Linked DNA regions of Homo sapiens. The protein of the gene in region 2 purifies or fractionates together with the protein of the main gene of each other region. This does not show direct contact. Each region holds a gene or a part of one and is shown on either strand. Other genes may lie near its edges.

Region 1 (3,500 bases), on a different chromosome or scaffold from region 2:
CCAGCAGTCGTGTTTGGCCCATGAAGAAGAACCCGTGGGTAACCGTCATGATGGCTGCGTTCATGAGAACCTGGGCTGAAATGCGTTCTTGTGGGCAGTGAAGCCTGGGTCTCCTTGACCATCTCAAATTCCTCACCATGGAAAGGAGAGTTCTCTGTCAACGTTCCCCTTGTTCTGGGGTCAGACTTTGTGTTCAGTGACAACCTGTGTTACTTTAAATGAGACAGAGGTTCTCATTTTATTTATTTATTTTTTGATTCAGGGTCTCACTCTGTCGTCACCCAGGCTGGAGTGCTGTGGCGCAATCACAGCCCACTGTAGCCTTGACCTTCTGGGTTCAAGTGATCCTCCTGCCTCAGCCTCCCTAGTAGCTGGGACTACAGGCATGCACCACCACACCTGGATAACTTTTTTTTTTTTTTTTGAGATGGAGTTTCACTCTTATTGCCCAGGCTTGAGTACAGTGGTATGATCTCGGCTCACCACAACCTCCACCTCCTGGGTTCAAGCGATTCTCCTGCCTCAGCGTCCAGAGTAGCTGGGATTACAGGTGCCTGCCACCACGCTGGGCTAATTTTTGTATTTTAAGTAGACACGGGGTGTTGCCATGTTGGCAAGGCTGGTCTCGAACTCCTGACCTCAGGCGATCCACCCACCTTGGCCCCCCAAAGTGCTGGGATTACAGGCATGAGCCACTATGCCCGGCCTTGGCTAATTTTTAAAAAATATTTTGTAGAGATAGGGTTTCCCTGTGTTGCCCAGGCTGGTCTCAAACTCCTGGCTCAAGCAGTCCTTCTACCTTGGCCTCCCAAAGTGCTGGGATTACAGGTGTAAGCCACTGCACCTGGCTGAAATTCTCAGGTTAATTACATCAGCAGTCATTAATGGCTGTGCTTGTGAAAGAAGAGGGAAATGCCTTCTGGCTTAATAGAACTCCCACGTGTCTCTACCATCCAGAACACAGGTGGAGACGTGATATTGCCGGGGCTGCCAGCTTGTAAGGAAGGAGCGGGTCAGGACTCCAGGTGTCTTAGCAGGCAGTTGATTACAAATGCGATTTTCAAGGCCAGCTTTGTGAGGCAGAATAGTGTCTGCGTTTGTGCAGCCAAGGGAGAAAGGAAGCGTTTTCTTCGGCTCCTGCTGTGAGATCTCTCCCCAGCTGCCAGAATGGCCAGTGCTGGAATTCCACCAGGTGGCACAGAGGGAGGGAAGCAGCCTGCGCCCAGCAGGACCCCGGGAAGGGACAGAAGGGCAACCTGGCTGGAGCCCCATCTCAGGGGCATGTGCTCTGTCTCCGCAGGCCACGTGGTGCTTGCGCAGTGCCGAGTGCTGATGGCCAGTGTGGGGGCCGCGTGCCACTCGGACCACGGGGACCAGTAAGTGCTCTTCACAAACCCAGTCCAGGGCATAGGGGTCCTCCGGGCACTGGGTGTGGTGGGCAGGCGGCAGGATCCGGCCACTGGGCCGCACTCTGGCTGGTGAAGGACAGCCCTGTCTGGGCCCTAGGAGGGGCAGAGGGAGGGCTTCCTGGAAGAAGTGACTTCCAAGCTGCCATCTGAAGGACTAGGACTTGTGCGGGAGAAGAGGGCTTCTCGTGCTCAGTTCTGAAGGCGGAGGGAGGGCAGGGCCTGGAGGGCCAGCGTGGCCGGGGCTGGGGAGGGCTGGGGCGGGCTGGGGTGGGCTGGGGTGGGGATGGCCTGAGTGTCAGTGCTTACTTAAACCTCATGGAAGTGGGAGCCCTGAGGGCCATGGTGTGAGCAGACTCAGGTGTCAGATCAGCCATCTGCAAGATGCAGCAGAGATTCTCAGATAGCAGGGCCCGGGTGAGCGGGTGGGCTGCCTGGCGGAGACTGTGGGGTAGAGGGCGTGGGGTGCCCGAGCAGCGGCCTGCTGGCAGCAGGGGAGAAGTGGTTCTGGGTCTGGTCTGCTGAAAACGTGAGGCCCCTGTGGGAGGTCGGAGTGGACGCAGGAGGAACACTCAGGGTTCTGGGGAGAGAGCGGAACTGTAGCCAGCAGCACGTGGCCATCAAGGTCAGGGCAGAGGGATTGTGCAGGAGCACCTGGAGCGAGACAGTGGTGGGCCTGGCTCCAGGGAAAAGGAGGGGCAGGATGGGGCCCTTTGTTGGGGGGACAGTGCCCTGCTGCAGGAGGGGCAGGGGAGGAAAGGGACCCGGGTGTGATGAGGTCAGGCCCCTTGACAGAGCCCACATCTCGAGCCTCCAACAGCCTTGCTTCAGGATGTCCCCACGCAGTCATCTGTTCATGGCTAGATACTGACTGGGTCCCTAGTGTCTGCAAAGCCCCATGCTAGGTGCCATGAAGTTACCAAGTGGCTCAGGTGGGCCGCATGGGTAAGGCACTGTCTGTGTCGGCATCCGTGTTCTCCAGGACCTCAGACCCCTCAAGGACAGGAGAGCCCCTGGCCCCAGAGCTCAGTGCGAGAGGGAGGCAGTGTCACCTGGGAGTGCCAAGTGCAAGAGAACTCTGCAGGGAGAACGGGGGCGACTTTGAGCCACACCTTGATGTGGGTGATCTTAGGGGTGTGCTTGGTCTGGGAGTTTAGCAGGAGGTGGATGCCAGGCGAGGCAGGCGCACATCCGGGTGGGCAGAGCCCCACTAGGGGAGTGGTCCAGAGCAGGGGGGGCTGTGTCTCTTCCATGTGCCCTCAGCAGCAGCTGCAGCTCGGTCTCGCCCTCCCCAGGCCGTCCCCAGTGCTGCTGAGCTACGGTGTCCCCTTCGACGTGGCCAGGAACGCGCTCCGGCTCAGCGTGGGCCGCAGCACCACCAGGGCCGAGGTGGACCTCGTCGTGCAGGACCTGAAGCAGGCCGTGGCGCAGCTGGAGGACCAGGCCTAGCACTGGGGCCGCCTTCCCCACCCCGCTTCTGGGAAGCCCGTGGCAGGGCACAGGGTTGTCCCTCCAGTTCCCTCCTGAGGGCTGTGCCAGGATGACTGTCTCATGCCCCCTCTGCATTTTGTCCTGGAGTGCCAGCGAGTGTGCACCCCCAGTTTCCTTCCCTGGACCCCTGCAGAGCTCACAGGGCCCAGGACACCAACGCCGCATAGGACTGCCCACATGGGACCGCCCACATAGGACCGCCCACATAGGACCGCCCACATGGGACCGCCCACATGGGACCGCCCACATGGGACCGCCCACATAGAACCGTCCTCCAGTGGTGAAGCGGAAACACTTAGCTTTATCCACCCTCCCCACTGGGAACTGGGCACGCCTGTTGTGAGTGCCCTTTCCTGGAAGGTGTTTTTATCTGGAAGATAGAATCCAAGTATTTATAACTCATTGTCAGCCAAATGCTATCATGAACGTAGGAAACTTGATTTTTTTGTTTTGATCATGGCCTCTACATGCACCTTTCCAGAGTGGTCTCTTCTCAGGCCCTTTTTAGTCCCTTTCCAAAGCTGCCCCCACCACCCTGCTCCTCTGGCCTCAGTGCACAGTGGCCCCCAGCCTCGGCCAGGCCTGCTCTGCTCAGCGCCCACC
Region 2 (4,196 bases):
CCTGCCAATAGCTGCCTTCATGCCCGCTCTTTCCAGATTGTGTGAGGGGTTGGGGTGGAGCTTGGGAACAGCAGCGGTCGCCCACCACAGGGATCTGTTTCCATTGGGTTTGGCCCCCCTGCCATCAAGGCAGTAAATGTTCTCTGTTCCTGTGGATGACTCAGGCTTCAGTTCAGCCCATTGCCCCTCCTCATCTGATGAACCCAGAAGCCTGGGCTAGAAGGGAGAGGGCCTCTTGAATCACATGAGTGACTAAAGCCACATGCAGAAAAACAAGTTCTTGATGAATCCCCCTACCATGTGACTTTGGCATGTTCCCAATCAGTGACAAGATACCTCAGGACAGGCAGGCAGGGAGCTATGCCTTTAGGGCATTTAGGAATGCCCTAAGGCAGCCTGTCATGCGGCTGCTACCTCTAGGAAATGGACACCACCATCCCCATTACACAGATGAAAAAACTGAGGCTGAGGTGACACAGCTACAACCTGGGAGGCCAAGATCTGAATCCCAATCTATGTTTTAACATAGAAACTTGTCTCAGGGGGCCCCCAAAAAGTGGCTGAAAGCTTCAAAAGACGGTTCTCAAAGCGCAAAACCTTCAAAAAACTGGCAAGGATGGAGCTGACACAGCAGAGAATGAAAAGCTTCCAGGTTTTCACTAATGATAAGAGAGATTTCCCAGTTTTTCAGAGGACTTTGCTCAGAGAAACTATAGGGGTACCGGATGTGGGAAGTGGTGTGGTCCTTTTGGGGTCCAGCGGGCCTGGATCTACATCCCTGCTTGGCTCTTGACTGTGACCTTAGGCGTGGGACCTCACTTTGCTGAGCCCTGGTTTCCTCATCTGTCAAATGGGCTTAAGGCCCTCTGCCTGATATGGGCGTGATAGGAGAGGCCAGAAGAGGGCGCGTGGACGATGATGGCCGGGCCTCGGTGGCAGTATCTATTCTCGTTTTTGCCAGCTCACAGACCTGGTGGGAGGTGGCATGGAGAATTCCAGACTTCCTCCAGTTGCCATGTTGGTGAAAACTGTCTTCATGCCAAAGAGGCAAACTCACTTACACGCTAACAGGCTCAAACAAGAAACTAAGATTTGGCAGCATTTGAAAACAGTTAACAAAAAATAAAAAAAGGAAGGAAAAAAAAAAGACAATTTAGCTCAGCTCTGGAATCAAGGGAAACTTCACTCTATATAAAGATGCCACAGGTCCAGGAAATAGCTTCCCACCGCCTGGCTAAGGGCTGAATAACTGGCTGCCCAGCCAATAACAATACAGACTCACACAGCACACCCTTTCTTGTGGAGAGCGCGGAGTGGGTTCCCGGCTATCTCCTTTCAGAATTTCACAGGCTATTCACGGAAGGCATGCAGATCTACTTTGTAAGAATTAGTTCTTAAAAAAAAAAGATCTGAAGACGACTTCCAGGGAGGCCAAGGAGCTTAATTTAGCCAGCCAACGCCCTTTTCTATTCATTGTTCTATACTTCTTTGTTAGGATTTTTTCCCTCCCTCTTACTCTTTTTCCCTTCCTGGTTAACTTCTCTGCAGCCAGGCTCCGCCACTGCCCACTTCTCACCGCCAGAGACACTATAGCCCCCTTCCCTGCTGTAATGAGGCCCTCCCCAAGGCCTCATGTGGGCCCATCACCCCACATCCCCTTTATCTCCACCTAGAACCTGCGAGGTGGTCCCAGGGCCTCCTGAATCTGCAGACGTGTCCCCTAGGTTGCTGCGGAAGCCACTTTCCACCTGCAGGTCACCGTCAGCCCCAGGCACCCCTGCTGGAGGGAGGGAAGCCCGAATGCAGCTCTATGTTCCAGGACCTGCAACCTCTGAGCCTCAGCCTTCCTATCTGCAAAACGACGCTACTGTCCCATTTTCTCAAGTCCTTGCCAGCTCCAAACAAGATTCCCATGTTCCAGAGGGAGATGCCAGGAGAAAACTTTCGTACATTTTAAAACAGAAGTTACTGGAGAGAGGGGGCAGGGGATGTTTTTAACCCTTTAAAGGCGTAGCCACTCAAATGATCCATTCCCAGAGATCTCCTCCATCGCCCAGGCCGGCTCTTGCCAAAGAACGGAGTCAAATTCGGCGAACCCTAGAGGGGCTACCTGTGGCTGGGGACTGCGGGTCTGCGCGCCTCTGGACAAGGAGGGGCAAGGCGGGCGGCCTGAGAACAGGCACTTCTGTCTCTCCCGCTTTCTGTCTCAGACCCCTCACCGGCTGGAGCCAGACTTTTCCACAGATGAGCAGGACGGGAGTTGGGGGGACACGGAGAAGACAGAAAGGGGTAGAGGAGCCGCAGGGAGGCGAGTAGGGGGGCGAGGCGGGAGGAAGGGATGGAGGGGGAGAACGAGGCAAAAGCGGGGAGGGGAGGGGAGGGAGGGAGGAGGAGTCGGGAGGGACCCGGGCAGCGCCGCCGCAGAGCCGAGGGGAGAGCAGGGGAGGAGGGGACGGGAAGCGCTGGAGGCAGAAGTTTTCCAAGCCGGGGGCCCTCGGTCGCCCCCGACGGGGCGCGGGCTCAAGGGGGCGTGGGGGCCGCGCCGCACTCACATAATGCTTGTTGGGCACCCGCCGCTTCTGCACGTCTAGCACCTTCACCTCCACGATGCTGCGCCGCGGCGGCATGGCCGCTCCTCCGCCCGCAGCGGGCCGAGCGCGGGTGCGGGTGGCGCGGGGTGCAGGGAGCGCTGGGGGCGCGCCGCCGCGGGCAGGGAACCTGGAGCTGAGCGCAATCGCAGCCGGGGCCGAGCACGAGCCGCCGCCGCCACCGCCGCCGCCCTTCGCTCGGCGCGCACTCCAGCCGGGCCCAGCCGCCGCCGCCCGCCCCCGGCCCGCCCCCCGCACCGCCCCCCGCACCGCCCCCCGCACCGCCCCCCGCGCCGCCGGCCCGCCCCCCTTAAAGGGCCCGGCCCCGACCCCCGCCCACCGCGCGCGAACCCCGCCGGCCACGTCCGGCCCCCGCCCGGCCTTTGTCCCGGTGCTGAGCCGCCGCGCCGGGGGAGGGGACTGGACTGACCCCGTCGCCCGTTCACTGATTGACGTATCGATTCATTCCAGCACTCTCGCTCCGGCAGCCGCCATCCACCGCCAGTTTGGAGAGCCGGACACCCGGGTTCGAATCCCGGCTTTGCCGCTTTTCCACTCTGTGCCCTCGGCAAGTTGCTTAACCTCTCTGGGTTGGGTCTCTTCGTCTATAATATGAGCCTAGTAGTACAAGCACCATGTTTGTCTTTTTGTGTCTGGCTTATTTCACTCGGCATAATGTCCTCAAGGCTCATCCATGTTGTAGCACGTGTCAGTAGTACCGCCTGCCTGCCGGTGCTGCGCCCGGGATTAAGTGCATGTGAAGCCATTCCGCAGTGCAGTCCATGGTATGAGTGCTGGCGTTCCTAAAGCCACCCCAAGCCCTGGTGATTCAGGAGGAGCAAGAGACCCGTGACCAGGTTCCCCCAGCCTCAGTCTGGGACATGGGGAGTGAGGGAGAGAAAAACTGCAACAAATGCGCATACGTGCAATGTAATTGCCATGGAAGCAACAAAAGGGGATAAAAGGGTGGTGACTATGTGTGAGGGGCAGCTGGGTGCTTGTTAGCAAGGCCATCGATTTCCAGTTGCGGAGCACTTAACTGCTCGCTGGGCCCCGTGGCCCCTGCTTTTCACAAATGCTGTCTTTGCATCCTCAGGCAGACTCTAGGAGGAAAAGGTGTTTTTACAGAGGACGGCCTCCAGACATTTGGACATTTCCAATGAGGCCTGAGGACCCTCTGACTTGGGAACTGTACTTCAGAAGAATGTGCCTTACAGGAATTACATCAGTGAAGGTCCAGAGTCAGGGAGCCGGTGGATGGAGCCCGTCACTGCCTGGCTCTAGGTGGATCTCACACGTTGAAGCTGCCGTGGCTGGGGCAGCTCCTCGTTTCTTCATCTAGTGCCTCCTAGCACTGGCTGGGCACTGAGTCACTTTCAGGAGATGTTGGCTGAATGAATGGATAAATGAATATATAATGCATGGATGGGAGGTTTAGGCTCCTGGCCAGTGTTTTCACAGCCAGTAAGTGGGGGCTCTTTTCAACAAACCGTACGACTCTTCTCCATGCCACGACAGAGCTACTTCCCACCCCGGTCCAGGATCAGCCTTTGGAAAAGGGTGGGCTTATCCAGGGTAGGACGGCTCTCAGCCTCGGCCAGGCCACGT

Evidence for each region.
Region 1: the proteins of SH3PXD2B (region 2) and SCLY fractionate together in Homo sapiens (co-fractionation; one large-scale study listed by BioGRID). This does not show direct contact.

The regions. Positions count from the first base shown.
Region 1 is NC_000002.12:238,095,501-238,099,000, forward strand, and holds part of SCLY (selenocysteine lyase), read left to right. Parts: intron 1-1,300; coding exon 1,301-1,376; intron 1,377-2,701; coding exon 2,702-2,855; 3' UTR 2,856-3,500. UniProt on the Homo sapiens protein: Catalyzes the decomposition of L-selenocysteine to L-alanine and elemental selenium.
Region 2 is NC_000005.10:172,451,726-172,455,921, forward strand, and holds the start of SH3PXD2B (SH3 and PX domain-containing protein 2B), read right to left. Parts: upstream 2,801-4,196; 5' UTR 2,628-2,800; coding exon 2,553-2,627; intron 1-2,552. UniProt on the Homo sapiens protein: Adapter protein involved in invadopodia and podosome formation and extracellular matrix degradation. Binds matrix metalloproteinases (ADAMs), NADPH oxidases (NOXs) and phosphoinositides.